4 separate regions of the Homo sapiens genome follow, and regions 1, 2 and 3 are each linked to region 4. The links come from fine-mapping of genetic effects on gene expression. A gene starts in region 4. Each other region holds a variant in brackets. All regions are shown on one strand. Distances are from middle to middle. Region 1 has its middle 59 kb from the start of CMKLR1. Region 2 overlaps FICD (FIC domain protein adenylyltransferase). Region 3 overlaps SART3 (spliceosome associated factor 3, U4/U6 recycling protein). Region 4 holds the start of ISCU (iron-sulfur cluster assembly enzyme).

What was found. PIP is the estimated chance that this variant, and not a neighbour inherited with it, causes the effect.
Region 1: its variant is fine-mapped to the expression of ISCU in caudate (GTEx, PIP above 0.99).
Region 2: its variant is fine-mapped to the expression of ISCU in whole blood (INTERVAL, PIP above 0.99).
Region 3: its variant is fine-mapped to the expression of ISCU in skeletal muscle (GTEx, PIP 0.94).

The regions. Positions count from the first base shown.
Region 1 is chr12:108,276,566-108,284,669 of GRCh38, reverse strand. It overlaps the pseudogene LOC196469. Among named protein-coding and RNA genes, the nearest start is that of CMKLR1, 59 kb to the left of the region's middle. The variant A/G (reference allele first, on the strand shown) is at 3,401.
Region 2 is chr12:108,518,772-108,526,866 of GRCh38, reverse strand. It overlaps FICD (FIC domain protein adenylyltransferase), which reads right to left. Exons shown (of 3, transcript NM_007076.3): 3 at 5,657-8,095. The coding sequence ends at 7,392. It overlaps SART3 (spliceosome associated factor 3, U4/U6 recycling protein), which reads left to right. Exons shown (of 19, transcript NM_014706.4): 16 at 314-768; 17 at 1,258-1,410; 18 at 2,361-2,551; 19 at 3,233-4,653. The coding sequence ends at 3,410. Among named protein-coding and RNA genes, the nearest start is that of FICD, 7.5 kb to the right of the region's middle. RefSeq lists an enhancer at 1,072-2,271. The variant T/C (reference allele first, on the strand shown) is at 4,749.
Region 3 is chr12:108,531,991-108,540,094 of GRCh38, reverse strand. It overlaps SART3 (spliceosome associated factor 3, U4/U6 recycling protein), which reads left to right. Exons shown (of 19, transcript NM_014706.4): 7 at 1,006-1,161; 8 at 1,892-2,030; 9 at 2,500-2,607; 10 at 3,310-3,387; 11 at 3,523-3,581; 12 at 4,627-4,736; 13 at 7,761-7,873. Among named protein-coding and RNA genes, the nearest start is that of FICD, 21 kb to the right of the region's middle. The variant T/C (reference allele first, on the strand shown) is at 3,762.
Region 4 is chr12:108,558,893-108,566,990 of GRCh38, reverse strand. It overlaps ISCU (iron-sulfur cluster assembly enzyme), which reads right to left and starts at 4,395. Exons shown (of 5, transcript NM_213595.4): 1 at 4,255-4,395; 2 at 2,599-2,712; 3 at 1,560-1,670. The coding sequence starts at 4,368. It overlaps SART3 (spliceosome associated factor 3, U4/U6 recycling protein), which reads left to right and starts at 5,818. Exons shown (of 19, transcript NM_014706.4): 1 at 5,818-6,148. The coding sequence starts at 5,837. RefSeq lists enhancers at 475-524, 3,906-3,975, 4,506-4,585, 4,656-4,715, 5,570-5,669 and 1 more and silencers at 3,166-3,215, 4,176-4,295.

The DNA of each region.
Region 1 (8,104 bases), 280 kb after region 4:
CTCCACTGGTACCCAGGACAGGTAGTGGCAGGACAGGACCAGGTCTGACGGTTTGTCCTTGATTCAAGAGAGCATTTTAGAGGGCAGTGGCTCCTGCAGCATCCATCCAAAGAGGTAGAGTCTCAGGAAGGACTAAGCCCTCCTGGGGGCCTCCCCAGCCTCACCACCTGACTCAAAGGGACTTTGATGTTTATGACACCGGGTCAGGTAGGCTCAGGAATCAGACTGCGAGGGCTCGAATCCAAGCTCTGCTATTTACGTCAGCTAAGGGCAGGGTTAGAGTTAGGCTCTGTGACCTTGGGCAAGCTATTCAATGCCTCCGAAGCCTCAGTTTTCTCCTCTGTATGACAAAGGGCATGATAAAGGTTTGCAGCTGTGAGGATTCAGTGAGATTGCTGCACTTTAGCGTTTAGCAGGTGCCAGGCTCTTTCATCTGAATATGCATCGGCTTTCTTGCTGGCCTCCCCACTTCTGTCTTTGCTCCCTCAACCCACACTGTAGGAAGCAGCCAGAGTGAGCTTTTATCACAGAATACAGTAATCCAGAGCCCTTACTATGGCATCAAAACCCCTATGTGATCGGCTACTGCCTCCTTCTCTAAGTTCATCTCATGCTGCTTTCCAGCTAGGTGATCCTTTCTGCCTCTCAAGCAAAATGAAACAAACAGATCAACAGCAACAATACAGCCAAGATTGGTCCCACCTCAGGCCCTTGCACTTGCTATTCCTGCTGTTTCTGGGCCCACTTGCCTCTTCCCTTTGCATGACTGATTCGTCCGCCTCCTTCTGGTCTCAGTCCAAATGCCATCTCCTCAGACAGGCCATGCTAAGGTAGCCTCCATCCCTACTCGCTGCCTATCAGATCCCTATTTTGTATTAGTGTTTTCTTTATACTAGTTACTGCCATCTGAAATCATATTATTATGTGTGTATTTAGTGGCCTTAAGTCTGGCCCCTACTTGGATCCAGCAAGATGGCAGGGACTTTGGCCACCTTATTGTATCCCTAGCAGTGCTTAGCCCAGAAAAGCTGCTCATAACTTCTGGTTGAATGAATGAAGACATTATCATAAGCTGACATTATTTTTGCCATCATCATCATCGAGTTTCATGACAATCACTTTTATAATACACCGTTTCCAAAGTATTTTCACATTTTTTTCCTATCTTAATGAAACCTGGGGAGGGTGGGATTTTTCCTCATTTCACCAACATGGAAACTGAGGTCGCAGGTCACTTAGTTTAGAAGTGGAGGAGACACAGTTCTTTACTTGTGCCATTAAGAGTAATCACAGGCTGGGCGCGGTGGCTCAGGCCTGCAATCCCCATACTTCGGGAGGCTGAGACGGGCAGATCGCTTGAGGCCAGGAGTTTGAGGGCAGCCTTGTCAACATGGAGAAACTCCGTCTCTATTAAAAATACAAAAAAATTTAGCTGAGCATGGTGGCACACGCCTGTAATCCCAGCTACTCGGGAGGCTGAGACACAAGAGTCGCTTGAACTTGGGAGGCGTAGGTCGTAGTGAGCCAAGATCACACTAGTGCACTCCAGCCTGGGCAGCAGAGTGAGACCCTGTCTCAGAAAAAAAAAAAAAAGAGTAATCACAGACAAAGGAGGTTTCTATCAAGTGCTTCCACCTCCCTTGGCCTTTTCTTTTCCCTGTTGTCTGATTTATTACAGCCAGAAAATAAAGGAACCAGATGCCTCCCTCCTCCTCATATTGTTTTGTAGTTCTTTTCCGGACCAGGTTTCTGTTAAGGGTTTGGCTGGTACCACTGTGACCACAGACTTCCTGTGTTTATCCCTTCACTTAGAAATCATAGTCAACTGGGCATTAAAGTCTGTGCTGGACACTGGATGACGCTAAGACACCAACACACAGCCAAATACCTGGGGGTCCCGTGGGGCCCAGAAGCCTAACACAGAAAGAGGCAGATCCAGGGTATCTTTTCCCTGGTTTCCACTATGCAGATGTTTTCCACCTTCAGAGCAACATCAAGATGAGTGAACAAGTCTCCAGTTTGCCTCCAGATGTTGGGACTGCGGTTGTGGAGCAAATTCCATACAGGGAGGTGGAATGGAGGCTCTCAGCCTTGCCTGCTGGCAGATGATAGCCTGGTGGATGGCAGGCAGTTTACAATACCTAGCCCACTGCCTGGGCACCAGTGCCTTACTGGGAAGGATTGACTTGTGATGGGATTTTAGGGATGGTGACAGGCAGCCAGAGGGAACTCCACATTGGTCAACCTATTTCATCCTTATCAGAAGCTTAAATGGTAAAACCACCTTGTCTTCAGAAACGAAGAAATGCTGGGTCAGCTGAAATTCGAGCCCTCACTGTCAGAGAAGCTAAGCAGAAACATCTTAGAGGTAGGGACAGGGGACAAATTTCAGACAAAGATCATGGTCAGGGCAAGCCTGCCAAGAAGGCTGCACATGAAGCCTCAGATCAGAAACCTGATGGAGTGGATGTATCCAGGCACATTCTACTACAACTTTGAAAACAGACCCATCCTCTCAGGTTGGAACACCACCTGGCTGTGCTACAAAATGAAAACAAAGAAGGACCCCTCAAAGCCCCCTTTGGACGCAAGGATCTTTGGAGGCCAGGTCTATTCCAAGCCTGAACACCACCCAGAGATGAGATTCGTAGATTGGTTCTGCAACTCGAGGCTGCATCGTGACCAGGACTACCTGGTCATCTGGTACATCTCCTGGAGTCCCTGCTCAGAGTATGCAGGGAACGTGGCAGAGTTCCTGGCCAAGGATGGCAAGGTCACCCTGACCATCTTCGTTGCCCACCTCTACTACTTCTGGGAAGCAGATTACCAAGAGGAGCTTCACAGATGGTGTCAGAAAAAACAGTCCACATGCCAGCATGAAGATCATGAACTATGATGAATTTCAACACTGTTGGGACAAATTTGTGTACAACCAAAGAATGCTATTTGATCCTTGGAAGCAACTGAATACAAATTATGCATTACTGCACAGCATGCTGGGGGAGATTCTCAGACACATTCACTTACAATTTTACCAATGATCCTTCAGTCTCTGGGCAGCACCAGACCTACCTGTGCTGCAAGGTGGAGTGCCAAAACAATGATGCCTGGGTCCCTCTGGACCAGCAACAAGGGCATCCTACCCAGCCAGGCTTTGAATAATCTCAGTTGCTATTAAGATTTCCATGCAGAGCAGTGCTTCCTGTACCTGATTTCCTTTTGGAAGCTGGACCGGGCTCAGTGCTACAGGGTCACCTGGTTCATCTCCTGGAGTCCCTGCTTCAGCTGTGCCCAGCAAGTGGCTACATTTCATTGGGAGAACAGATGTGTGAGCCTGCACATCTTCGCTGCATGCATCTATAATTATCTCCCAGGATATGAGGGGCTGTGCATGCTGCAG[A/G]GGGCTGGGACCCAAATCTCCATCATGACCTCCGGAAGTTTAGGCACTGCTGGGTCACCTTTGTGGACCACCAGGGATGTCCCTTCCAGCCCTGGGATGGACTAGATGAGCACAGTCAAGCCCTAAGTGGGAGGCTGCAGGCCATTCTCCAGAATCAGGAAAACCATAGGATGGACCTCAGACTCTAAAGAAGGCAGAAAACCTGTGTTGAGCAGCAGAATGGAAATCTTTCAAGAAATGCAAACAGGCCATTCACCACTATCTCTGGCTGAGCAGTGGACACTAGCAAAGCAATGAGCTCCTGACAAGTAGTTTTTTTTTTTTTTTTTTTTTTGAGACAGAGTCTCGCACTATTGTCTGGGCTGGAGTGCAGTGGCACAATCTTGGCTCACTGCAACCTCCGCCTCCCAGGTTCAAGTGACTCTCCTGCCTCAGCCTCCTGAGTAGCTGGGATTACAGGCGCCCGCCACCAAGCCTGGCTAATTTTTTTTTGTATTTTTAGTAGAGATGGGGTTTCACTATGTTGGCCAGGCCGGTCTCGAACACTTGACCTCATGATCCACCCACCTTGGCCTCCCAAAGTGCTGGGATTACAAGTGTGAGCCACTGTGCCTGGCTGACAAGTAGATTTTTAAAAAAATCAGAGTGAATTACTTTTAATCAAAAATTTATACCATGTTTCAAGGATACAGTAGTTAAGATTATGGTCAATACACACAGAAAGTTTTCAAATTTACTAATCCAGTGACCATTTGATTTTATATGTAGAAGAATAAAATGAAATACTAAATAAAAAAAAAACTTCTAAAATTTGGTGAAGACAAGGCTTGGCAACGCCAAAGAAACTTTTTTCTCCTTGAAACAGGGTCTGGCTCTATAGCCCAGGCTGGAGTGCAGTGGTGTGATCATGGCTCACTGCAGCCTCGAGCTCCTGGGCTCAAGTGCTGTCCCCACCTCAACCTCCTAAGTAGCTGGGACTACAGGTGTGCACCACCATGGCCAGCTAACCACAGAAACTTTCATCTGTTTATTCTTTCTTTAGGCACCATTAATACCTAAGGCAGGTAGAATGGGTCCCAGAAAGACACAATTGGTAGCGGCTGATTGTTGGCTTCGGTCATTGCCCATAGGTCAGCTGGTACAGGATGCCTTAAGGTGAAAAGGAGTGAGGGTGCATGAAGAATAATGAGCACAGGGAAGAGAGAAGCAGAGCAAAGTACCAGATAAAATACCGGCCAAGCACAGATGAATGTCTTCAAGGAGCTGTTATGTTTCTCTGCACAATGTAAATACCCTTGCTATTTCAGGATGGCGGCTGGCCTGCTCAGTAACACACATGTTCCAAATAAAGATTTTGCATGAAAGTAAAAAAAAAAAAAAAGAAAGAAACGAAGAAGTGAAGTTCAGTGGGAACAAGTAAGCTTCCCAGAACCACACAGAATCTACCCATTGATTTGTATTGAGGATTTACTATATGGCAGGCAATGTGCTAGGCTCTGGGGATACAGCTGCAGATGCCATCCTGACCTTCATGAATCTTGCAATGTATTGGCATGCAGCAGAGCTGAGATTTGAACCCACAGCTGTATAACTGTGTGGTTTATACTCTTTTACTACATATCCTTCCTGAGTTAAATAAGTTAGATACAGAGGAATTAGGACAGAGCAAAGGGAAAGACTTCATGTTATGAAGCCTTGAACTTGTCAGGAGTTAGAGAAGACTCACATTTTGGCTAGGGATTGCTGAGTTGAGATTGATTCTGGGTTTTATGACGCACCTGTCAATAACTGCTCTCCCATCCCTGAATTCTCAAAACAGAAAAGTGACCTAATCCAATAGCTTTTCCTTCCTTTGAAAAAGCAGTAAAAGATGATGCTGCTTAACCCAAGTGAATGGCATGCTAAAGGTGAAATTGCAGGAACTGAGGCAGGTTAAAGGATAAAGAAACAGGGAATAGGTGGAGGCTCCCTAGCTTCTTCCATTCTCCCTATAGGGACGATTGGTTTTGCAGGTTATTAGAATCTGAAATGTCCCCACTTTCTGATTCCTGAATTCCTTGGGCATTCTATCCTTTTATAAACCTCATTTCGGTCTGCTGGCCACAGAATCCTCACAGATATAGATAGATGTATGGAAACAGCTAGTTCAATCTTAACATGTCAGAGATAAAAAGCCCTATAATCAGTATTGTCAAGCCCATCCCAGGATCTCTGATGAAAAATTAGTCTCACAATACATTAGCAGTGAGACATGGCAAAAACTTGGACATGTCCATGCCCGGCTCCGGTTTCCCACTCCATGATGTGATCCTCCATTTCATTCAACTGCTCAGTCATCTTCTCATATTTTGGTTCAGACACATCAATCCCTGTAAACTTGAGAAGCACAGAAACAGAAAATCAGTATATCTTTAAAGGCTAGGAATATATATTACACGAATAAAAGTCTTGATACCCTATGCTATTTAACATTTATCTTAGGAATCACGGTTTAAAATAAACCAAGCAAAGTTTGAAAGAAATAAGATTATATCAGTTAGAATGCATTGGACTGCAAGTAACAGAGACCTCATTCAAAACGGTAGAATCTATAGGAAAAGTGCATTCATTTGCATACTAAGAATGCCTGGAGGTTGAGAACTCAGCAACTGAATATTGGCATCAAGGATCCAGAGTGTTTCCTTCTGTTTGCTCTGTCATCTTCAGAGGATTGGCTTTGTCCCCAAAATGACATATCTCCTGGTCAAAAGATGGCACTCACAGTATCAGATATTGCAGCTGCCCATGGCATCAAGTAGAAGAGCCATTGATTATCTCAGAGTGTTGCAAGGGAATCTGCCCCCGCCCCCAACCCCCTAGCAGAACTCCCCTCACACCTTTTTGGCCAGAACTGGGTCACATGGCTACTGCTAAACCAATCACTGATAAGGAAAGAAGATTGGTTTAGACCAATCAGGATCCACCCAGGGGACACAGGACAAAGAAGTGGACATTCAGACAAGATCAGGGTTTCATTTACATGGAAGAAGGGGAATGGGTTAGGGATAGGCACTGAGTGGTGTCTCCTACAGAAGAGACAGGAGACACTTTAAAAAATAATGACCAACCTGTTCAGGCCGGAGATTCACATTTTTGTTAGGAGAAAACATAAATTATTGGATCTGAGCAAAATTATGGTGTTTGGTGGGGTGGGCTCTCCTAAAAAGTAAGAACTTATTTCTCAGAAAATCAGAATGCCTTATCCCTTGAGAGTAATAATTTTTCTCTTTTTTTAATATTAGCTCATCATATTTGGCAAAAAATTTAGTATATATAAACCAGGAAAAAGAAAAAGAAAGTAAGAGAGAAAGAAAGAAAGGAGGGAGGGAGGGAGGAAGGAAGGAAGAGAAAGAGAGAAAGAGAAAGAAAGAAAGGGTAAGAAAGAAAGACAGAAAGGAAAAAGTGAAAGAAAGAAAAGAAAAGGAAAGAAAGAAAGAGAGGAGGAAGGGAGGGAGGGAGGAAGAAAGGAAAATAAAGAGAAAGAAAGAAAGGGTAAGAAAGAAAGAAAGAGAAAGTGAAAGAAAGGAAGATTGATTAAAGGAAAACTACCTGTGAACCCAGGAATAAGTACTATTATCATTTTAGTTTATAATCTAAAGTCTAGTTTATATGTCTGTATCTTTTAATAACTATCTAGTAAAAAAGATACTCTGTTCTATAACATTTTTATTTATGAACAGACACTTCTCAAAAGAAGACATTTATGCCCAAAAAACACATGAAAAAATGCTCATCATCACTGGCCATCAGAGAAATGCAAATCAAAACCACAATGAGCTACCATCTCACACCAGTTAGAATGGTGATCGTTAAAAAGTCAGGAAACAACAGGTGCTGGAGAGGATGTGGAGAAATAGGAACACTTTTACACTGTTGGTGGGACTGTAAACTAGTTCAACCATTGTGGAAGTTGGTGTTGCGATTCCTCAGGGATCTAGAACTAGAAATACCAGTTGACCCAGCCATCCCATTACTGGGCATATACCCAAAGGATTATAAATCATGCTGCTATAAAGACACATGCACGTGTATGTTTATTGTGGCACTATTCACAATAGCAAAGACTTGGAACCAACCCAAATGTCCAACAATGATAGACTGGATTAAGAAAATGTGGCACATATACACCATGGAATACTATGCAGCCATAAAAAATGATGAGTTCATGTCCTTTGTAGGGACATGGATGAAGCTGGAAACCATCATTCTCAGCAAACTGTCGCAAGGACAAAAAACCAAACACCGCATGTTCTCACTCATAGGTGGGAACTGAACAATGAGAACACATGGACACAGGAAGGGGAACATCACACCCTGGGGACTGTTGTGGGGTGGGGGGAGGGGGGAGGGATAGCATTAGGAGATATACCTAATGCTAAATGACGAGTTAATGGGTGCAGCACACCAGCATGGCACATGTATACATATGTAACAAACCTGCACGTTGTGCACATGTACCCTAAAACTTAAAGTATAATAATAATAAAATTAAAAAAAAATCAGTTCACTAAATGTTCCTCTATGCAGGTTTGGTTATTCAAGTGATTGCCTAGTAGACATAGAAGTTTTGCAATTTATCTGACCAATCCCCTACTGATGGACGCTTAGGTTAGTTCCTTTTTATTATTGTTTCTGTAATTTCTTGATGGGTTCTTGCTCCAGTAC
Region 2 (8,095 bases), 40 kb after region 4:
GCCCTGGAATTTGCCTTCTGAACTTTGAGATCCACTGACCTTTTGTATAATTAAGAGTGGACAATGGGGATTTATGTTATTACTTCCACTTGATTGAGCCCACTTACCCGAGTGTAATTGGGGCACAGAAAGTCGTGGGACAGGTCAGGCGGATCACAAAAGACTTCTCGGGGTGGTGCTTGCCCCTCCGAGTCTGGTGAGGGAGTAAGTGTCACATGCAGCTGTCACAGCACTTTCACTTCACACCTCTGTTCAAGCTCCCTGAAGAGAAGTAACAGTTAACCATGGCTACTTTTCTTTTGAAAACCTGTAGAGCAGCCTTCCAAACGCAGAAGGGTCGAGAACAGCATCCCTGCAGCTGGAGAAACACAAAATGTAGAAGTAGCAGCAGGGCCCGCTGGGAAATGTGCTGCCGTAGATGTGGAGCCCCCTTCGAAGCAGAAGGAGAAGGCAGCCTCCCTGAAGAGGGACATGCCCAAGGTGCTGCACGACAGCAGCAAGGACAGCATCACCGTCTTTGTCAGCAACCTGCCCTACAGCATGCAGGAGCCGGACACGAAGCTCAGGCCACTCTTCGAGGCCTGTGGGGAGGTGGTCCAGATCCGACCCATCTTCAGCAACCGTGGGGATTTCCGAGGTTACTGCTACGTGGAGTTTAAAGAAGAGAAATCAGCCCTTCAGGCACTGGAGATGGACCGGAAAAGTGTAGAAGGGAGGCCAATGTTTGTTTCCCCCTGTGTGGATAAGAGCAAAAACCCCGATTTTAAGGTAGGTTTATGGAAAAAAAGAATGCCTTTCATCTGTGGTTGCTTTAGACAGGCACTTTCTTCCTGCAGCAGTGATATTTAGGATAGACATGGAAGTTTTACGCTCTGTTTGGATCTAAACTTCCTTGTGAGCCAAGGTCCATCCTGAGCCGGTTGACTGAGGTCTGACTCATGGCATGGCTCCTTCTTGCTGGGTGCTTAGCAATGACAAGGGACTGTGCTGAATGCTTTATGTGTGTCAGCTCATTGACTCCTCATGAGACTCTGTGAATGGTTACTTTTATTCTTGCCGTTTTACAGAGGAAGACATGGAGGCCTGGAGAGGTTAAGTGACTCGCTCCGGTGGCCCCATTAACAAGTTTCAGAGCATGGCTTGGCTCTAGTCTGCCTGGCTGGGCTGCTCATGGGGACAAGGCTGGTGTCAGAGGAGTCAGGTGAGCTGGGTCATGCCTCGAATCATGGTTTTTCTCTGTCTTCCTTCTTCCTATAGGTGTTCAGGTACAGCACTTCCCTAGAGAAACACAAGCTGTTCATCTCAGGCCTGCCTTTCTCCTGTACTAAAGAGGAACTAGAAGAAATCTGTAAGGCTCATGGCACCGTGAAGGACCTCAGGCTGGTCACCAACCGGGCTGGCAAACCAAAGGTCAGAGTCAGAGCAGATTGTGCCTTGTCTTCAAGGCTTGGGCAAACTTCGTTTCTGTATCGGTTCAAAGATGATTTAACCTCTAGAATGGGTTCCTAGTTTGTCTGCTGAGAAACAAAAGTTAATTTCACAGAAAGATCTGCACTTAGCTCTACTTATATTTGGAGTCAGATTAACCTGTTTGTAGTTAATTGTACTAAAAAGAATAAGACACTTGGAAATAGAGGATCATGAATTCACCACACTATGGCCCCTGGCTGTGGGGCTTGGGGGAAGCCCTGTGACCAGCAGCATACGGGCTTTGGGGTGGGCGCCCTCCTGCAGCCTTCTCCCTCTGTCCCAGGCCTCTCTTTCTCTGGGGCCTCCAACCAGGCCCCTTGAGTCCCTCCATTGCAGTGCCTCTTCTCCTGTCTTTCCTTCTTGCCCCCTCAGTCTCCTGCTAAGTCCTTTTGTGCCCCATTTTGAGTAGTAAGTGGTTTCATTACTGTCTACCCACTGCCCACTCTCCCTCCCCTTTATCCAGGTTAATGGAGAGAAAAAGAGGATGAAATGAGGGAGCGGGTGAAGGCACAGAAACACGAGGGCTCACCTGGGCACCTGGGCTGCTGGCCCTGTGTCCCATCCACCTCTTGGTTTATTTGCTGGATTTATACTGGTCCATCTGTCTTTTTCCTTCTTTCTTTCTACTTCTGCAGCACGTACAAGGTGTGCTGAACTTGGAAGGGTTATCTGAAGTTACAGTGCATAGCAGCACTCGGGAAGGAGAGTAGGGTGGGGAAATAAGCCTGTAGACAGAGGATGCGGTGGTGGGGAAGGTAACCTGTTGGTGGGTCGTTTGCTGTGGCCTGGTCTGCTGGTCTCCGGGAGGAAGCCCAGTGCCTGCCCTGCAGGAGGAGGTTGCGTCCCTAGTCTGCGGGATCTGACTTGGTTCTGGATCTTGCCTCTTCCAGGGCCTGGCCTACGTGGAGTATGAAAATGAATCCCAGGCGTCGCAGGCTGTGATGAAGATGGACGGCATGACTATCAAAGAGAACATCATCAAAGTGGCAATCAGCAACCCTCCTCAGAGGAAAGTTCCAGAGAAGCCGGAGACCAGGAAGGCACCAGGTGGCCCCATGCTTTTGCCGCAGACATACGGAGCGTAAGTGCTTGCATGGTAGACTAGTGCAAACTTCGTCCTGGCTGGCACCAGTTCATGGATCACGGGGGGATTAACCCGGGATGAATTAGCTTCCTGTTAGGACAGAAAAGCCAAGATGTGCTGTTCCTTGTGGTAATCACTGTGGTTCCACTGGAGCAAGGCGTCCAGAGCAGGATGCAAGCCTAGGCAGTGACCTCTGCCTGGTACTGGCCAATTTACACTTGTCATTTATTTCAGACAGAAATAAGGCAGTGATTATTTTAAAGTCCCCTTTGCCAGTTGGATCTGTGTGTTTACAAAGAAATCTCATACCCATGTGTGTGCCAGTCTACGGCCCTAGCTATGATCCACATAAGCTGTGCTGTTCGCTGGTTTGGGATGAGGAGGAGATAGCAGAATTGCCAGGTGACTGGTGAGGTCTGAGAGGTGATAGTCACACTGATCCCCTCTGAGTGTGACTGGTGCTCAGGGTTGATCTTTGCCAAAACTGAACAAGGCCAAGTCTGTTGAAGCAGTTTTTACTTCATAAACAGAATTAAGGAGGCAGGGATTATCTTATCCTTTTTTTTTTTCACCTTTTAACTTCTGGTTATATTAAAACTGTCTTGGCTTATTTTCACAAATAAATGAGGGGCCACGAATTGTTGCTTCAAAAGGTCCATTCAGTGTTTGCTCTTTTAGGAGGGGGAAGGGAAGGACGCAGCTGTCTCTACTGCCTCGTGCCCTGCAGCGCCCAAGTGCTGCAGCTCCTCAGGCTGAGAACGGCCCTGCCGCGGCTCCTGCAGTTGCCGCCCCAGCAGCCACCGAGGCACCCAAGATGTCCAATGCCGATTTTGCCAAGCTGTTTCTGAGAAAGTGAACGGGACGCTGGGAGACAGGAAATGCCTTACTTCACTCTGGCCCGGCGGACCTCCCACCACCCAGCAGTGCACTGGGGATGGACAGGCCTGGTGTGCTGCGTGCTCGCAACCACAGATGGCTCCTCGGCTTTAGACAGAAAGGGGAAGGGGTTCTAAGTCAAGAGCCTTTCAGTGCTCCCTCATATTGAGGGCAGTGGCAGAAAAGTGACCACTCTGCAGGCTGGGCCCAGGATGTGGTGTCCTGAGATAGTTTTGTATCTTAAAGACTGAGGCACAGAAGCGAAACGAGAACACACTGTTTTTGAGACACAGTTGTCCAAATGTTTCTGGCCAGCTCCGGCCCCTTTTTGTATGACACTTCTCTTCCACCCTGCACAGCACATGTGCCCGTCATTCTTTTAATTTTAAAAGATGAAATGGCAGATGCTAGTAATTCACAGAATGGCCTCTTGTGGGGGTGGGTCTGAGGGAAGTCAGCTATAAAACATTTGCTGGAGTTTTGTTCAATGGGGCTGTGCATTTTTATATTATGTGTTTGTAAATGACATGTCAGCCATTGTTTCATGTTTCCTAAAAGCAGAATATTTGCAACATTTGTTTTGTATAGGAATTATTTGTGCCACCTGCTGTGGACTGTTTTCTTTGCCTAGTGACTAGTGACCTGTGTTGTCTAAACATGAGTTTCAGCCCTTTGGTTTTGTTTAATACCATGTCAAATGCAAACTTCAATTCTCCCCATTTAGCTTTATTAAACTGACGTTCTCTTCAAAACTTCTTGCTGAATGGTACTCAGATGTGCATTCACATACAGATGTGTTTTGAAGTGGGTGTACCTTGCTTTACCTAATAGATGTGTAAATAGAACTTTTGTAAGTCAAATCCCATTGTCACTTTGATTTAAATTATTCCAGCTGTGATGTGTCTTCATTTTATAGCAGTTTGACACTGGAGCTTTTGAGCTTTTTTACCTCACATCTTTTATCAAATAATATTTACTGCTTTGAAAACAGCAACAGCATTGGCCAGTTCAGTAGGGGAAGCTTGCTTTATTAAGACACTCTGGAGAAAGACGTCAGGGAATCCTTGTATATGTCGTGGGAATCAACTCCTCATTTATCTGTTGCGTAAGTTTAAGTTTTTGTGCATCAGTCGGGTTTTCTATATTTTTTTAACTTAACATTTTTTAATATAACCGATTAAAAAGTAGACAGAACAGTAAAATAAACTCCTGTGTGCCTACCATTCAGCTTCCAGCATTCCTCAACTCCCAGCCCCTCTTCCTTCATGTCTGTTTCCCCTCCACCCTCTGTTATATTGAGGCACGTTCCAGATGTCAT[T/C]GTGCTCATCCAGTAATGTTGCGGCAGGTGTCTCAGGAGGACTGAAAGGCCTTCACTCCTAGAAACATTAGTGGTAATCCCTTCATGTCATCAACTGTCCACTCAAATTTCCACCTTCCTACAAATATCAGCTCTCCTCCCTGTAAATTATTGGTTGGTAAGCCTCTTAAGTCTTAAAAGGTAGGTTCCCCTCCATCTCTTTTTTATACAAAACCAACTTTTTACTAGGCTTTACTTCTGAATTAAATTCAAGCGGCGGCTATTGACAGCAGCAAGAACCTTTGCTGTCCCACGCGTTCCTCCTGCAGTGTTCTCTGTGATGCTGCTTGGAAGGCTGATGGACTGTTCAGCTGGTGTGATGATTTGGGTAGCTCAGAGCCCTCATGGTTGGGGACCTGACACATGAAGAGCCCTGAATATCACTATGGGTGAGTGTGGCCTTACTTTTTGCTGCTTCACATTAACGGTTTGGCTTTGCCTGCAGCCAGTATTCTGACCTTAATGTCACACTTGCAGATGTCAGCCCAGGCTTGGTACAGGGGCAAACCTTTTCAGGCTTGAGCAGAACCCAGTTAGGTTCCGGGTGTTGACTGTTCTAGAAATGGATTTCCAGGACTACATGAGTGGGTTTGTGTGTTTTCCCCAGAAAATCCAGAACTGATGATAAATAGAAATGTGAAAAACTACTTCAGTTACTTGACTGTTTGTTAGTAAAAAAAAATCAGTAATTCATCCTTGCCCACCTAGGTAGGCGGTTTATCCAACTTCTGGGTCTCTTGCCCATGGAAATCACCATCTTGGATCTGTTGCTCTCCCAGAACAGTATTATGAATAGGGCTAAAGGTCAGAATACCCCCACTGCCCTTATGACAGATGGGAACATCTCCCAAATAAGACAGTCTCAAGCATTCATGTAATAAAATAACTTTATTAGAATCAGGAATTTGTTAAAATAATATCCTTCACATATAGCTAAAGTGCAAATTCTCTTGCTCTGTAGTAGAAGCAAGCACATCTGTCAGACCTCCGTGGTGTGCTTATAAAACCAAGACGAGAAGAGTTTTAAGAAGTACCTCTGGCAGCATAAGAGTACGAAAACACATTTTATAAAGGTTTGAACAATTATCATTTGGAGCCATTTCATATATCGTGTATGTCTTTTCACTTATTTTTCTTAACCTTTCAAAAACTACTCTGTGCTATTTATACAACTGAAGAACTGTATAAACTACTTTAGAGCAGTGGCCTCATTACTGTCAGGAACGGAATTACCAAATCAAAGAGACAACACTGCGTATTCGCCATCACTCACACACTGACAAAGTGCAGTAGTGTTAGACATCATGGGCTCTGTCACTGGGAAAGGGACCCAGTGACTTCCACCTCTCTGACTCTAAATAGCAGCAGTCATATTGGCACCTGTACCATATGATTCAAAGAGAAGATTCTACTTCCATTGGATGACAGCTTGGAAACCCGGCCATATTACATAGAGCACTACATCATTTCACAAGTTGCGAGAAAAATAAGGCCACTCCGAGGCAATCTCTTCTGCCTCCCAGGGGGATGGGACACGGGACAGTGCAAAGACCGTGGAAGATGGCAGTAAGTAGATGAAACTCCAGGACCAAAGGGATGCAGCCTGGCCATGGCTGAAGGTTTTTGCTCCATTCAGTAGAAACTGGTGCTCTAATTCATTATCAAAAATGCTTACTTGGTGTCCACATGGCACTTGTTTTCTCAGGTTAACATCTGCCTACAGAAAACTCAGGCAGAGGGGTGAGGGCAGATGCCTACTAGCATAACACCTGGTTTGCAGCACGATACAGGTGGAATGACAAGCCCAGAGAATTTCAGACGAAAACATCTGGCCTGAGTTGCTACAAATGAAGTGTGAGAGAAACGCGGATACACAAAGAAAACCAAACTGCCCGCCCACCATGTTTCCCCCTCCAACATACAGCTCTTTATGGCTACCCCCTATTCTTAATTAGAAAAATAGTCTCAATATGAAAAAAAAAAAAAAAAAAACAGCTGCTGGCACTAAAGTTTGCAAACTATGGCTCAAAAAGTCTTCCTGCAGGTAAGTAAGGAATGTCGGCATTCATTTTCTCTTCTATGAAGTTTGCTTGGAAGTTAGTCACCACTAATCTAAACCTTGAGAAAGTGAGCTTTCAACCATTTCTCTCAGCTGCGACTTGGGTCTGACTTCCCAGTTGCAGTCACAGAACCTCTCAGCCTGTTTCAGAGAAGCACTTGGAGGAGTTATGTCAGTGGCTCTGGGCCCCGTCCCACACCTCTTGGCCGCTCCTCCACCTTAGTGCAAATTCTGCTCCAGAACCTTTGTTCTGGTCACATGGTGGCACTGTTGCCCCTAAAGCACGGCCACCAGCAAGACACAGCAGACACCATACAATACTGACTAGCTTGCTCCAAAGAAGAAAATAAATAGCTTGGTTGAATTATAAGTTATTTTAGAGACAAGGCTTCATAACTTAGTTTTTTTTTTTTTTTAAAACTAAAACATTTGGAGGTAAAGAATGTTTCTCCTTTTGCTTTAGGAAGTGACTAGGTTTCTAGAAATGCTGTTTCTTTTTTTTTTTCCTACCTCAGGACAGCCTTTGTCACTGAGGATTTCTAGGGTTAGGGCTTCACAGGAAGCGTCTCCTTGAACCCAGAGTGGTTGGGTTGGGCTTCTGGCAGTGCCACCGAGTACTCAGTTGTGGCAAAAAGCAGGGTGTCCAGGGTGGTCTCAGTACACTTGGCGATGAAGCGAATGAAAGGCCTCACGTCGCCCTCGTTGGCAGCTTCCAACACGTGGTAGTAGTCGGACCGCTGCTCCTTGCGGATGGTGATGGGCGGGTAGCCCGCCTGCATGAGGATGAGGTTCATGAGCAGACGGGAGGTCCTCCCGTTGCCATCAATGAAAGGGTGGATGTAAACGAGTTTATAATGGGCTAAGGCTGCAAACTCCACTGGGTGCAGGTTCATGGCTTCCTCGGAGTTGAGCCACTGTACAAACTCCTGCATCTGCTTTTCCACATCCTGCGGATGGGGAGGGATGTGGTGTCCGACCAGGACCTGTGTTGTCCGAAACCTGCCGGCTTCCACGGGGTCCACGTAGCCCAGCACCCGCCTGTGGATCTCCAGCACGTCGCTGATGGTGACGGAGCCGATGCGCGAAACCAGAGTCGTGTTGATGTACTTCATGGCTGCATGCATGCCTATGACCTCGTTCTGCTCCTCCAGGCTCTTCCCGGGCACGGCGTAGCGGGTCTCCAGGATGTGCCTGATTTCCGAGAGGGTGAGGGTGTTGCCCTCGATGGCCACTGTGTGGTAGATGTGAT
Region 3 (8,104 bases), 27 kb after region 4:
TGGCTTGAAGTTTTTTGGGCTTCTTGACTCTTTTTTTCTATCTTTCTTTGCCAACAATAGGATTGTGAAGGTCAGATTCTTAATATACGTCAAGCCAGCAAAAGGTTAATGTTTACTTAGCTTGCCACCCTCATTTAGATTTTGTCCTTAGTCCTTAGTATTTCTTGTTTCTTTGCCAGTTTGTTGATGACTTTTAAGAAGATATTATATTTAATTTAGCAGTTTTAGTTGTTTTGAATGGTACAGTGTGTCTGGGTAACTAATTCTTCCTCGTTACTGGAAATGGAGGCCCTGAAACATCCCCTTTCTACATATGGAGTCTGTGTGTTCTCTTACTCTCCTGCACTGCTTCATCCTTTCTTTTTCATGTGTAAATGATTTGCATGTACCTGTGCTTCCCAAAACTTCGATCATTCAATTATGTCATGGCCATCAGCAAAATGTGCCTGAAGAGAAAACATGTCGAATAAGATTTTTTTCTAAAAAGAATTTGATTGTATGTCTTTGGATCATTAAACATTCAGCACAGCTGCCTTCATCTTCTGCATTTATCTACATTCTTCCAGGAACTGATATTTGGAATAAGAAACCTGAAATAGCATCAGGCACCAAAATTTTCCAGTTTGGTTGTATTAACTCTACTCAGTAGCCCAAGAACATGACTTCTGGTTTGGAAGGGTGGTTGACAGTGGTCACTGGCAAAGGTGTTGCTCTTTCACTCAGTTCCTGATTGATGGGCTACTTAATTCCCTGTGGTCTAGGAATGGATTTAGAAAAGAGTTTATGGAGCCTTTGTAGCGACTGCCATGAACTGGCACTTTGGACCAGATGAGAAGACTCTTGTTTTGCTCAAGAAGTTGTAGAGGCCATAGTGGAGTGGTTCTGAGAGTGAGGATTTGGCGATTCATAGTTACTGTAGCCAGTTTTGCCAAAATTTATTTTATTTGCAGATGTGTTGTGCTTCCTGCCAGTAACTAAATTCAATACAATTTTCCTGTACTCCAGTTGCAGGCAGAGGCACCAAGGCTGGCAGAATATCAAGCATATATCGATTTTGAGATGAAAATTGGCGATCCTGCTCGCATTCAGTTGATCTTTGAGCGCGCCCTGGTCGAGAACTGCCTTGTCCCAGACTTATGGATCCGTTACAGTCAGTACCTAGTAAGATCACTGTTCTAATTTCATTTTATTTTTGCCAATTTAGAATCTACTTAAAATCAGTAAGAGTGCCAGGAGTTTGTTGCATACGGCCCTACTCTTGCTTTTCCTCCATCTGCTTTTTCTCCTCTTTGCCAACTCGTTTAGAAAGTTTTAGTGTTTCAAGTTATTTAAAAATGGTCACTAACTGTAAGTAAAATGAGCATATTGTCTGTGTTGAGGACTTATAACAACTTGATATTTTTCTTTTAACTTTTTATTATGGCAAAAATGTAAACATATAAAAGTAGACAGATCAGTAAAATGAAACTTCTGTACCCCTCACCCAGCTTCAACAATTAGTAACATTTATAGCTTTAGTTTACTTTGATCTGTAGTCTCACCTACTTGTCCCTTCTGTGTTACTTTGAAGCAAATCCAGAAATGATATTTCGTTGGTAAATATTTCAGTATGTGTATATAAAATATTTCAGTGTGTCTGTATAAAAGGATCCAAATGAGGTCTATCCAGTAGGGTTGGCTGACGTCTTTTAAGGCTGTTTTAACCTGTAAGTTGCTCCTCTCCTTCTCCTCCACTCCCCTTAGTGATTTTTTTGTTGTTGTTGAGGAAACCAGGTCACAAGAGATGTTTATAAGGACATTTCTTTCATCACTTGGTCGTGCTGGCAATGTCTTGTTGATGGTGAATGCTTAATAAAGTGTAATTTCCTAACTCTGGAATTCTTTATCATAGGATCGACAACTGAAAGTAAAGGATTTGGTTTTATCTGTACATAACCGCGCTATTAGAAACTGCCCCTGGACAGTTGCCTTATGGAGTCGGTACCTCTTGGCCATGGAGAGACATGGAGTTGATCATCAAGTAATTTCTGGTGCGGATGTTTTTGTGGGAGAACTTCTAAGCTATTTGTCCCAAGTGAAAAACAGAGAGCGGTGACAAAGTCATTACATCAGTGTTCCCTGGGGTTTTCTTTGGGTTATGGAGTGTAGTGACAAAAAGGGCTCTGAGTGAGAGATGAACTGGTTATATTTGTGGCTTCTTAGAGCTTTTTAACATGCTAATATTCATTGTATTTTCTAAGAAGTTGTAGTGTTTTCTCCAAACTTCCTTGATCTGGAACTTTTCTTGCAGGGCGTCTTGTGGAAGAAGTTTTTTCTAGAACACAGTCTGTAGAGTGCTGTAGCAACTTCTGTCTTCAACATTCCTGTCTAGCTCATTTCATTCTGTTGCATCTATTAGTCTTTAAAGTCATGTAGTGTTTTATAGTCAGTAGAATGTAGTGACTTTCTATTAGTTTCCATTTGAATTGGTAACAAATCCTGACTTTTCTCCAACTCCAGTAACCTTCGAGAAAGCTTTGAATGCCGGCTTCATCCAGGCCACTGATTATGTGGAGATTTGGCAGGCATACCTTGATTACCTGAGGAGAAGGGTTGATTTCAAACAAGGTATTTAAGCACATGTTTTTCACTTTAGAGCTGAACATGTTCTTAATACAACTTTTGGCGAGATGTCCCAGTTCCCCAGATACATTGTGATTGGGCAAATGATGTAGACTAGGTATTGGTGACTTTTTCCCCCAGAAATCTTAGCAATTTCTGTCTTTAACAAGTCATGATGTGGATTGTAAAGCAAGAGAGTAATCGTTTATACTGGCTCCTGCCAGCCTTTTTAGTCTTAGCTCTCATTTCTCCTTTCAGGTCTTTTTATTTATCCTAAATACTTCTTGAAATAAGTCTGCTGTGTTTTAGAAAAATCTTTGTACCTCTGTGGGATCCTTTGCCCCTTCATGTCCCCCCGAAAACAACCAGAAAACCCCTAACTTGTACTTGCACACTCATGTCAGCTGTCACCTCATACAGGTAGCCTTTAGCCATTCTCTTGTTTGCCTGTGTCACCCCAGCTGGGGGAGACTCCCCCCCACAGCACCCTGTGTTTGCCTTTTTCACCACGCTGTCCATGCTCTATTCTGTTCAAATTTCTTTCTCCCCAACTATGTGATGAGGGCAGGAATTGGCAATTTTATTTCTGTGTCCCTTGCATGATGCCAGGTACATAGTGGGTCTCCAGGCAGTTTCAGCATAGGATAAAAAATAAAACAAAGCCAGGCTATGTGGTTTCCTAAAGCCTTTTTTTGCACTTTCCGTTAGACTCCAGTAAAGAGCTGGAGGAGTTGAGGGCCGCCTTTACTCGTGCCTTGGAGTATCTGAAGCAGGAGGTGGAAGAGCGTAAGTATGCCCCAGCCTGTGGTTTTGCCCAGTTGTATTTCCTTGTCTGTACTATTTCCTGGTTGATGTACCTTTTCAGCCAGCGACTATCTGTCTCCAAGTTCCTTTCTAATTTTACTAATTCTGTTTTTGAAGGTTTCAATGAGAGTGGTGATCCAAGCTGCGTGATTATGCAGAACTGGGCTAGGATTGAGGTAAATGTTTTTGACACATCTAGCACTTTCATCCATCATTGTTTAATAGCATCCTATTAAACTTTAATTAAAATTGAGTCAGAATCCCAGATAATGGCCTAAGCTCTATAAGGATTTATGTTATTACCTAGGTAATGGTCTAGGCTCCACAAGGATTCATGTTATTTACCTAGCTTGACA[T/C]ATATTTGTAAATATGTTGGTGAAAATATTAGCTCCCAGCTAGAAGTTGTGCAGTAAATGTTTAGATGCTAGGTATTCACTCGTTTACTTCTGTCTCTGCCTCTTTGCTTCATTTGTGAGAGCACAGTGAGCGTGTACTGTTTGTCAGCACTGTACTAGGTGCTGTGGGAATAAGACAGATAAAATTCCTTTGCTAGTAAGGCTTCTATCTAATGTAGAAGACAGATGATTTGACAAGTAATTAGAGGATATGATGACTTGAATGTCATTACTGGGTCAGGGACACCAAGGTCAGTAAGACACGGAACCTCCCTTGATCAGCAGGTAGGATTGTAACAATTCTAATCATGTTTTCTCCTCGGAGGGAGCGTCAGATAGAAGAAACTAACATTTGTCAGGTAGTTTTTATATGGGATGCTTATCTTTTAACCATTTTAAAGATGAGAAAACTGAGAATTACAGGTTAAGTAATTTGCCCAAGTCACAGTTTGTAAGTATTAGTAGCAGAGTGTGCATTTAATACTAGATCAGTCTTTTTTTTTTTTTTAACATTGTCTCTCAAACACTTGTAGTTAAGCTTGATAAAAATAAAAAACGTGACTATCTAGTACTGTCGAGTAAGTACCGTGCGCTCCCTCTCTCGGTTCTCAGGAAACATAGGTAGATTAGCTTGTGGCTGCAGAAAGGCTCAAGTGTTTGGGCTGGGTCGTTTACCACTGGAGGGAGGCCTGGGGAATGCCCAGGGACATCTGTAACACTAATAGTTGTGGGGTGCTTTTTATGTGTGTCTGTTGGAAGTGTGTTGTATGATGGGTGTCGACGTCATAAGGTTCAGGTCTCCTAACAGCCTGCTGATGCACTTTAGGCTCGACTGTGCAATAACATGCAGAAAGCTCGGGAACTCTGGGATAGCATCATGACCAGAGGAAATGCCAAGTACGCCAACATGTGGCTAGAGTATTACAACCTGGAAAGGTAACTGATCTCGGGGTGGGGAGGGAGGCAGTGCTTGTCAGCTGTGCACCTGTCTTCACTCCTGGCTGACTCCTACCAGCTTGGACTAGCTCCTTAGAACTGGGCTGTTTTCTTTCATTCTGTCTCTTTCAGTAGTGGGTACATTTTTAATGGGCAGGGCTAGAGAACCAGACATGATATTTTGTGCCTGGAACTCTTATAGCCATGCATTTCTTTTAATTTGTTTTTGTCTTGATTTTTGGGCATGATATTTTATTTGACCTTTTGGAGCTATTTGTTTTTTATATTTGCTTTTATAGAAAAGTAGAAAATACTAAAAAGCTAAGAGAAAAAAAACTCAAATTACTGACCCAGTCATAACCATGACCCATTCTTTGAGACTTTTCTATGTTTAAATTTTTTTGTAATGAAAATGCAATTATAGCATGCATGTGTTACAAGCCTTTAAAACTATTTGAACGAAATAAGATAGGCCTAACAATATTTATAACATGGGGAAAACATAAAGAATGTGACCAACTTTTCAGTCTGTCTTGAACGTTGTTCATTGCATAACATTGCTACATTGCTGGGTTTTCTTTTTTGAAGATTTTTTCCCTATTTAAAAAACACTGTGTGCCCAAATTAGAATATTTACAAAAATATGTGATAGAAAGCGACAGTTTCTTTTCTTTTTTCGGGGGAGGTGGGGAGTCTCACTCTGTTGCCCAGGCTGAAGTGCAGTGGTGCAGTCTCAGCTGCAACCTTGCCTCCTGGGTTCGAGCAATTCTTCTGCCTCAGCCTCTTGAGTAGCTGGGATTACAGGCGTGCACCACCACACCTGGCTAATTTTTGGATTTTTTTTTTTTTTTAGAAGAGGCACAGTTTCACCATGTAGGTCATGCTGACCTCAAGTGATCCTCCTACCTCGGCCTCCCAAAGTGTAGGAATTACAGGCATGAGCCACCATATCCGGCTAAACGTGACAGTTTCTTACAATCCCACCCCAGAGATAACCACTGTTAAAGCTTGTTGAATATCCCCCTAGATCTGCAGTTCACAATTTTTTTGGTCTCAGGATCCATTTTCCACTCTTAAAATTGGAGGATCCCAAAAAACTTTTATGTATGTGAGTTATATCTATTGATATTTATAATTTATAAATTGAGAAATCTAAAAAACATTTTAATTTATTTAAATATAACAAATTATCTAACATTAATATCTTTTTTGAGCAGTGACTGTTTTCCAGACCCCAAAATAATATAGTGAGAAAAGTGGCAGTGTTTTCTATTTTTGCAAATATATTTATTTGCACATTATTCTGACCTAGGAGAAGACAGCTAAATTCTCATGTCTGTTACTGATTCTGTCTGTTGTGATCTGTTGTTTTCATTGAAGAGGTTAGGAAAGAAAGGTATTTTAGAAGCATTTTCAGATAATTGTGGGTATTCTTCTTTCATACATATTATAGCAAAACTTCAGTGTTGCATGTGGAATCTGAAACCATATTGACAGAGTCTGTTACAGTAATACCCATTTGTCTATTTTATCTTTTACTTGATGCCACAATTCTACGACATTATTTGGAAAAATCCCAATTCACTAAATCATGCAGCTCTTCCAATGTTGACATATTTCATCCTATAGTATTAAAAAATCGTATTTGTTCATATCTGTATTGATCTTAGTTGAAAAGTATTTTAAGTAGGAAGCTGTCAGACTTGTGGTGGCAGATACAAGTTTTCCAAAATTCTAATTTTCACTTGAAAGCTTGAATTCTATCACATGCAACAAATAATGTCAGTGGTTTTCCCCAGAGTGGCAGCCTCACTTTGTTAATTTTCAAAAATGTCTGCCAAATACCCAGGTCTGAGTAACTGACCGTGGTTTGTCACTCAAGTTTCCTTTCAAGTAAAAATGGTGTCCTTGAAAAAAATGACTTGATTAGCTTGCAACTCAAACAGTAATATGCTTTTTTTTTTTTTTTTGGCAATAACCATTGTACTTCAGTATGCAGAAGGGCTTTAAGTGTACTTAGTATTTCATCACACAGTGCATTAAAAAGATTTCTACTGCCTTGATTTGTGCTAAGGGCCACCATTACTTGTGCACTGTCTTGAAGATGTCAACACAGTGAAAAAGTCCAGTAATGTCTTGGTATTATTATAAAAGGAGTTTTGACTTTGCAGGGCCCCTGAGAGGCTCTGGGAGATCCTCAGGGGTACGTGGATCTTACTTTGAGAACCAGTGCTCTGAATTTATTCTGAGCATCATAATATGTATATATAATTATGTATATTTAAAATGTTTTAAAAACAAATATGAATACACTGTTGCATAACAGTTATGATTAGCAGAATTGTGTAGCTGTTGTGATTAGCAGTGTACAAAAAGGATCTGTTTGCGACCAGCCTTGCCAACCTGGTGAAAACCTGTCTCTATTAGAAATACAAAAATTAGCTGGGTGTAGTGGTGGGCACCTGTAATCCCAGCTACTCAGGAGGCTGAAGCAGGAGAATTGCCTGAACCTGGGAGACAGAGGTTGGAGTGAGCCGAGATCGTGCTATTGCACTCCCACCTGGGTGACAAGAGCGAGACTCCCTTTCAAAAAAAAAAAAAAGATCTGACTCTGGGTATGAAATTTGACACTACCCTGGATTCATAACTCTCCTGTCAGTAGGACGCCATAGTAAAATTTCCCTGGGGACTGTATCAGGTTACAGAGAGCTGTTGGACTCCCCCGCCATGTGCCGCACATGTGAATGCTGTAAAGGCAGAATGCTGGTTGCAGATCACAATATCAGGTACACTTTCCAGTAGCCCCTACATGGCTGAGGGAGAGAGTGCTTCAGGGAAATACTTCGTAGGTGACTGTAGAGACTCTGGAAGGAGAAAGCATCATGGATAGATCTGAAAGCTAAGGTCTTCTCAGAAGCTAGAGTTACTGAAGAGTGAGTTTCTACCTGGGAGAAGACGGCCTCTCCCTTCGAGTGCCTTCCACTTTGTGTCCTGGTGGCAGCAACTTTTTGTTTTCTGCCTTAGAGCTCATGGTGACACCCAGCACTGCCGGAAGGCTCTGCACCGGGCCGTCCAGTGCACCAGTGACTACCCAGAGCACGTCTGCGAAGTGTTACTCACCATGGAGAGGACAGAAGGTGGGACCCCCAGCTCTCTTCTGGCTTGGAGCCTAACCCATTTGCTGTTTGGTCTCAAGTAGGAGCATCTGGTTACAGTCTGGGGACAGACTGTGTTTATGCTGCCACCTTAGGTGGTGCCCTATGATTAGACTGTCACAAGTGTCCTGAAAATGAGTCCTCCTGCAGCTCTTCTCAAATTCTGCAGCTACAAGGAGGACTCTGTGATGTCACTGTAGCACAGGGTTCTAA
Region 4 (8,098 bases):
AGCTGCACTGCCTGGCTTGGGTAAGCAAAGACAGCCCAGACACTTCTCTAAGTCAGGAGTGGAACCTGTGAGAAGTCTCTTAGGGATCTGCTTGTGGCCTGTAACAGGAATCTCTTCCTTAAAAGGTAGTGATTTCCTATGCTGGTTTTGTGAATATCAGCTTCTCCGATGTCCTCATACCAAATGTTAGCCTAAATCCTTTTGACTAGAAGTGCCGAATGGCATCAGAGAGGTTGGGAAGATTTCAGGTAAGTAGCACAGTGGCAGTGGCACAGCCGAGTCAGGCCGAATGCTCTCTTTGGTGTCCCCTTTGCCTATAGGAGCATCTCCTCCAGATCAACTAAAGAGGATGCCTGGGGTCTGGTTGACAGCCCTGGGGGATAATGTGAGGCAGGCAGATCCTTGCCCATGTAGAACAGTGCCCCACTGCCTTACAGAAAACCAGATTTCCCAACAGCCAGACTCTTTGACTATGTCTATCATTCAGTTTCCCAATTCTGCTAACCCTTCTTGGTTGATTCAGGTTCTGCTCCTGAAACTCAGATGGGAGATCTCAAGGTTAAAGAAATGTCCTCTCTCCCATTTTCTGATCACAATTCACAGTCCCCTAAGGGCCAGGTTCTGGGAGCAAAAGTGCCTTGTCTCATTTCTCCCTTCACCTGAGGACAGTTCCTGACAAATCACTTCAGAGCTACCTCCTGCCACAGCAGGTTAGGTCTGAGCTTCCTGGCCCACAGGGGCTTGCCAGCCAGAAGGCCGTGAGCCACAGGAAGCAGGTGGCACGTGGCCTGGCAAACTGCTCTGCTGTGGAGCTGGCCAGCTTCCAAGCATGCTCCTCTGTGACTCAGCTCCCTGAACCTGGTCCCTTGGGGCAGCAAAGATGAGTGCCTTGCTGGTTGGCTTTTCTGAGAGGTTTTGACAGCAACTGGATTTTAGAAAGTCCAGCTCTTCACTGTGTTTGGGACCTTTGACCTCTGCAGCTACCAGGGAAAGACACTTGGGAGACAAAGGGATGAAAAAGAAGTTCTAGCTCTTTATTATCTCTGCCTTTAGAGGGCTTGCGATCAGCCACCTGGATCACTGTTCTGATTTCGTTGTTCACTTTGCCCCCACCCTTGCTGTCTTTTTGATTATTTAATCCCTCTTTTAACACAGGCTAGTTTATTTCACCAATTCTTGAAAGCCACCTAGAACCCTTCCTGAAACATGAGAGGAAATAAACAAGAAAATAACTACCTTATAACAACTCTCTGACTTGAGAAATTATAAGAGCACTGGTAACCTTAGAGAAAGCCAAAGATTTCTTTTAAATTCTATTTTGTTAGAGGGACAGGTGAGGATCTTTTTTATATGTAATTAACACCCAAACAAACAAAAAAATAAAAATGATCAACAAGAAAAAAACCCAAACAACACCTAGTAGAATGATCCATAATTCCCAATTTGAAGAAATGATAATATAATCAACATCTGCATAGGAGAAATTTTAAAAATTTAGAATATTAAAAAAAAGTCATGGTTACTTGTTTTTGACCCATTAGATTTGTGAGCCACCTTACCGTCTTTCCTTTCACCCATTCAGTGGCTAATGAGCTGGAGGCAATTGCGGAACCACAGCCAAATGTTTTAAACCTAGCATCCACAATCTTCCCCTTTTCATCCACTTGAATCTAGAAAAGAGACAAGAGTTAAGTGGTGAGTCCTGGGACCACCCTCTGGAACCTGGCACTCACGAAGGTTCACCAGGGCCTTCCCCAAGGGCTTTGGGCTTGCTTTCCACACTAAGTGATGGCATTAATTACTGACTTTGCCTTGTTTCAAAGAGCTCAGTGATGAAAAGTGAAATGCAGGGACAACTATCCAGGCCCAACTGACAAAGATCAGCTGAAAAATATGTCCCTCCACTCCAATATTCTTTTGTTTTGTGACTCTGGCCTGCATTTTGGCTATGAACTTCTATTTGTGGAAGTCTGCTCACAGCTGCTGGGGCAATCTGGCCTCTTTAAACACTGACAGAGTCCACAATAAAGGTCTCTGGTTAATACTTTTTTCTTGGGCAGCAGATTACACTTAGTGGTTTCCTCCTGTTTTGTTTCTGTATTCCAAGATAGGTATGAAGACCTCTGGCAAGCTGCCCACTCACCATGAAGCAGCAGATTGGTGCTACAACTACAGTTTACCCAAAGCACTAGACACTATTTTCATGTTTCCCCCAATCTGGGGACAGGTTTAATTTACTGTGTTTCTTGTTTCATTGGGGACTGCTAGCTCACTGGGATTTTCCTTTGATCAGTAAAATTCACAAAACTCTTTAGTTGGCTGAAGTCAGAATTTAAACTGATACAGTGAGTACAAAAATGAGATTACTTTTCTATTTTGGAAAAAGTTGGCATAGTACACTAGCCTAGCAGGAGAGCTACGATTGAGGCCCTGCTCCAGTCATATCTAACATGGACTCATCCCATCTCACAGGAATGGAGACCAAGTGAAATGCTTGGAGATCTCACAGGAATAAAGATGGAGACCAAGTGAAATGCGCAAGTGCTTTGTAAACTTAAAGGGATTATTGTTATCACTATTAAAAAAGACTAGCCATACCTGTAATTTCATTACGTCACCACATGCTGGAGCCCCCACCAGTCCAGTTCCAACATTTTTAGATGTCTTGTCAAGGGACCCCACGTTTCTAGGATTTTCATAATGATCAACAACCTAAAATGAGAGGGTTAAGATAAATCATGTTCACTCTCTATTGGTACTGGTCTCTGGTTTGATGGTAAGCTCCTCGGTCAGCATCTTGAACCTGGCAGGCAATCACTAAATACCAAATTTCACCTGAGTAGAAAGGTCTACACTCATGTCAATGAGAACCATTTGTGACCCCCAATTCCTTTTGTGTCTCCTCTACAATACTTCACAGATTTGAGATACCTAGAAGAAAAAAAAATCAGTGAAATCATGTCTTAGTTCCATAGGATTTTTACAAAAATACTTGACTTTCACCCACCTACATCACCAGACTTGGGCTCAAACAGCAGTTTTGTTATTTTCAAATAAAATCCATCCTCAAAGGATGATTACTATTTAAAAATTCTAAAAATAACCATGGCCCAGGGAGGGAAAGCTTTCTTAGAAGCCTTAAGGTGACTGTTACACAGGGAACAATGCTATGGAATGTGTACGTTTATGTGTCTTTTAAAATAAAAACAGTGCCATTACCGTATTTCACAGCCTGTCATCACCCTGGTGCAGCAGCGCACCCTGGCTGCTGAAAGGCTGCTAGTCCAAGTTTCTTCAGGGTGTACCCTCAACAAAACACACCCCCGGGAGGGGGAGGAGTGAAGAAGCCCTTGGAGAAAGGGCAGAAGCCAGATCACAATAAACATCCATTCGAACTGGCACACAGAAGGCCTTAATAACCTTGAGGTTTGGTTACTGGTTAGTAGTAAGCACGCCGATCTTCCAGTCCCCTTTTCCCCCCATCTGACTAAGGATTTTGACTCCAAGTAAAAGGGACCTCAGGATAGTATCTAATGTAGGGGCCTTTTGTGCCACGTTGATTTATGGCATTCTTTAGTTGTTTCTCGAGTGGGAGTCTCACGTCTGGGGGACTTTGTGCCACCAGACAGCAAGGGGCTGCAGACTATGAATCTATCCCTCCTTCCCCGCCAAAAAACCCCCCAAACAAAACAAAAACATTACGCATGTTGGTTACAAGCCTGACTCCCCTATGCACTCCTAAAGCAGTAACAGAAACGGTCTCCTCGTGCTGGGGCCTATGTGCCAGGAACCATGCCAGGACTCCACGCACAGTATCCTTTGTAAGGGACAGCTGAGAGCCCCCCATTTACACCTGGGGAAACAGGTTCAGAGAGGCGCAGTGACTAGCCCAAGGTCATCTGGCCAGGGCAGCGGAGTGGCTGAAGCCGGAGCCCGCTCCGGGGGTGTGTCTGTCCCTGGACTCAGAAAGACAAGTCCCAACAGGACCCTGCCTCCTGGGCTGTTGGCGAATTTAAAATTGGGACGCACGAAGTCGCGGCCAGCGGCGGGGCCCCCTGGAAGTCGCCGCCCGATGAGCGGTAACTGTTGTTTATCAGTTGCAGTGAGCCTCACTGCGCAGCAAGGGAAAGCGAGTCAGGGCAAAGACGTGGGAGGGGACAGCTCCCAGTCCTAGCTGCGCAGAACCCCGCGGCCGCCCCTCCAGCCCAGGCCTCCGCTGAGTCGGCATTCCGCGCGTCCCTCTTTTGTCCCTACCTTCTTGTGATAGAGTCGGGCCGGGGCCGACAGCTCCCGGGCGGGCAGGCGGGGGCTCCGCAGCAGCAGAGCCGATGCCGCCCGCCTCAGACGGAAAGCCCCAGCCGCCGCCATCTTGCCGGCTTGCGCCTGCGCCAGTCCAGAGCGACGCCGAGGGGCGGGGCGCGTCTGCGAGTCGGCTCCGAGCTGGGAGCGCGCCTCTCTGACGTCACCGAAGCTTTGCGCCTGCGCTTTACCGCTCCGTGCACGCGTCCGCCTTCTGGCCCCGCCTTGACCACGCCTCTCGGGGGCGGGCGGGGTCGGGAGCGGGAAGGTCTGAAGTCGCTGGAGGGCTTGTCCTGGGTGCTGGATTCTGGTTGAGACAGGACCTCAGGGCTTCTGCAGTGTGGGGCTCAAGTTCGCTTTCACAAATCCCGCTGCGGGAATGCGGCGCAGAGGAGCACCGAGTCCACTTTTCCTAACCCTATTTTGCAGCTAAGGAAGCCGAGATTCAGGGCAGTTTAGTAAGTCCGTCCAAGGTCGCTAAGGACTTATGTTCAATTAGAATTCGAACTTGGGTAATCCTGGGTTAGAATCCTGGTTCGGTTCCTTCCTGGCTGTGTGTCCCTAGACGAATGGTACCGGCTCGCTGAGTCTGAATCTTCCCTTTTGTATTAATTCGAGGACAATTGCTTCATCATGAAGCCAGCATCTGTGTCGAGTACCTACTATGTGTCAAGGCGCTCTACTAGACCCGGGGATCCAACGGAAAGCAAAACAGACATAATTCCTGCCCATTAAGCCTGCTAATGAGGGAGCAAGGTAGAGATAGAGACACACACCAATACTTTCCTACCTCAAAAATGGGAAGCTTAAGAAGGAAACGAATACCATGTCCTGATTGAAAAAAAATGAATATGTCTATTTTTCTCTCTAAAACAACAGCAAACTCAATTTATATGTCAGTGCCTAGCAATTAAGAATTTCTAAAGAAATGCGTATTAATGTAATTTACTGTTGGTTTGCAGTATGTGATCTTATAAAACCGGAAAACTCACGTGTATTTAACGTCTACTAGGTACCAGACGTTTACATAAAGGGGAGGAATCTGGGAAATGGATTTTTCTCTTGAATGGTGAAATCGATCCTTCCCCGAGGACCTGCAGTTTTCTTTGCGTTTGAGGCGCAGTTGCTGGGGAGAGTAAACCCAAGCGCCAGGTCACACTAGGCGATAAGTAAGGCATTTAATCGAAGAATCACTTTGACCTTCTCAAGATGGCGCCAAATTCTTCACTACAGACATCACTCTCGCTCCATGACTTCCTCTATGGCTTCCACTTCCTGCCCAAAGACCCAACTTCTGTCCGAAGTTGTGACGGAACGCATGCCATTATAATGAGTTTTTATATCTGGTGGGAGCTTTTACAGGGTATAAAATAATGTGAATTTAGTGTATGTGGAGATTTTCCTGTTATCTAAGTTCCCAGTTTCTCTTTCAATGGCAAGAAAACGGGTTTTTGATAAGGCGCGCGCCGCGGGCAGCTTCTGCCTCAGCGGGTCTTCGGCGGCCGCGGGAAGACCCGAGAGTCATTAGAAGCGCAAGATGGCGACTGCGGCCGAAACCTCGGCTTCAGAACCCGAGGCTGAGTCCAAGGCTGGGCCCAAGGCTGACGGAGAGGAGGATGAGGTTAAGGCGGCTAGGACAAGGAGGAAGGTGTTATCGCGGGCTGTGGCCGCTGCGACATACAAGACCATGGGGCCAGCGTGGGATCAGCAGGAGGAAGGCGTGAGCGAGAGCGATGGGGATGAGTACGCCATGGCTTCCTCCGCGGAGAGCTCCCCCGGGGAGTACGAGTGGGAATATGACGAAGAGGAGGAGAAAAACCAGCTGGAGATTGAGAGACTGGAGGAGCAGGTGGGCCCGGGGGTGGGCAGCGGGCATCTTCCAGTCTTTCAGGTCCTCGGGTCCCCATGTCCTGGCCCGCCTCCCTAGTCCTCGGCGGCGATAAAGCCGCCAAGGCTGCAAACCCGCTTTTCGTGACAGTAGCTCCTGTCGGATTTGAGTGCTTACTGCCTGCCCATTGCCTTGCAAACGTTATCTCATTGAATCCTCGCCACGACCCTGTGAAGGAAGCCCTGTTATCTATCCCCATTTTACTGGAGGAAACTGAGGCTCGTGGAGGAAAGTTTCTTGCTCAAGATAACACTTCCTGCAAGTCAGGCCTTGTACTTTGATCCCATTCCAGAACTCCCACTCTTAACCACACGTCCAACAGTAGAAATAAACTCATTCGCAAGAGAGTGTTATTTTGTTATGTAGGAATGACGGCGATGATGAAACTTGTGGTAAGAAAAATATTGACCGCGATGGTGATAATAGAAATGGAAAGGTTTCTGGTTCTGGAGGTTAAGGCCTCAGTTCTAGCTGTTCAACTCTTGTATGTGCTTGTAAGAATTTCTTAATTTCTCTCACCCTCTCGACTTCCTTATCTGCAGATTGGGAGCAACAATTTCTGCATAATATAATTGTTGTAACAGTAACTATAGCTCAGTGCCTAGCATCTAGTCATAACATGGTCTCTCACTTGTAACCTTATGAGGTGGTGATATCTACTGTATAATCCAGGATCTCAGCAGGAAATAGGTGGCACATTTAAATTAGGATGATCTGAGAGAAACTCAATAAAGGTGTGGGTAGGGAAATCGGGAGTGAAGGTTTAGTATCCCATAGCTGGTAACTCCAGAACCTGGTGTCCATCTTTGGGCCGGAAGGGGTGAAGGGTGTGATCTGAATTGTGTGGAGAGGGCACCTGAGACCTGCTGATAACTTTGTTCAAGGGAAGCAGCCCCAGTTTCCTGTCAAGGATTGAGGTGGGGGAAGAAATACCCTGACCTCTCTTTCTTCCTCCCACCAAACTTCTGCTGGTGCCTCCTGCTGGGCAGACCCATCTGGAAGCTGGAGAGCCAGGAAACCTGTGCATGAGGTCTATACTCGGGGACACAGGGCAGGGAGGAGAGGGTAGGGTGTTTTTTGGAGGGGGCAAACAGAAGAGATGGAGCACATTCTCTCTTTTTTTTTTTTTTTTTTTTTTTGAGACAGAGTCTCGCCCTGTCACCCAGACTGGAGTGCAATGGCACCATCTCGTGTCACTGCAACCTCTGCCGCCCTGGTTCAAGCGATTCTCCTGCCTCAGCCTCCCCAGTAGCTGGGATCCAGGCACGCACCATTGCGCCCGGCTGATTTCTGTATTTTTAGTAGAGACGGGGTTTCACCATGTTGGTCAGGCTGCTCTTGAATTCCTGACCTCAGGTGATCCACCCACCTTGGCCTCCCGTAGTGCTGAGATTACAGGTGTGAGCCGCTACGCCCGGCCCGCATTCTCTTTTTACAGATGAAGAAACAGAGGTTCAGAACAAATGATGAAATGATTTCCTTTAAGTTATTCATAGTGGGATTTACACTTAAAATGTGGACTAGATGCCACACTGGATGTGAAATCACTCAGTGAATGTGAAGTTGCTAATCTAGTTTACTCATTAAACCTTACTGAGTGTCAGTTTCCTTATAATACTCTCTCTGGCACTGATATTTTTGTTATGAGATAGTGATGTCATCCATTGGTATAGCTTGTCCCACCCATTACATCTGATTGTCAGAGGAACCTGTTGGGGTTGGCAGGTGGTTAGCATTTCTACTTTTTTTTTTTTTTTTTTTTTTCTTTTTTGAGACGGAGTCTTGCTCTGTGGCCCAGGCTGGAGTGCAGTGGCACGATCTCGGCTCACTGCAAGCTCCGCCTCCCGGGTTCATGCCATTCTCCTGCCTCAGCCCCCCGAGTAGCTGGGACTACAGGCGCCCGCCACCAAG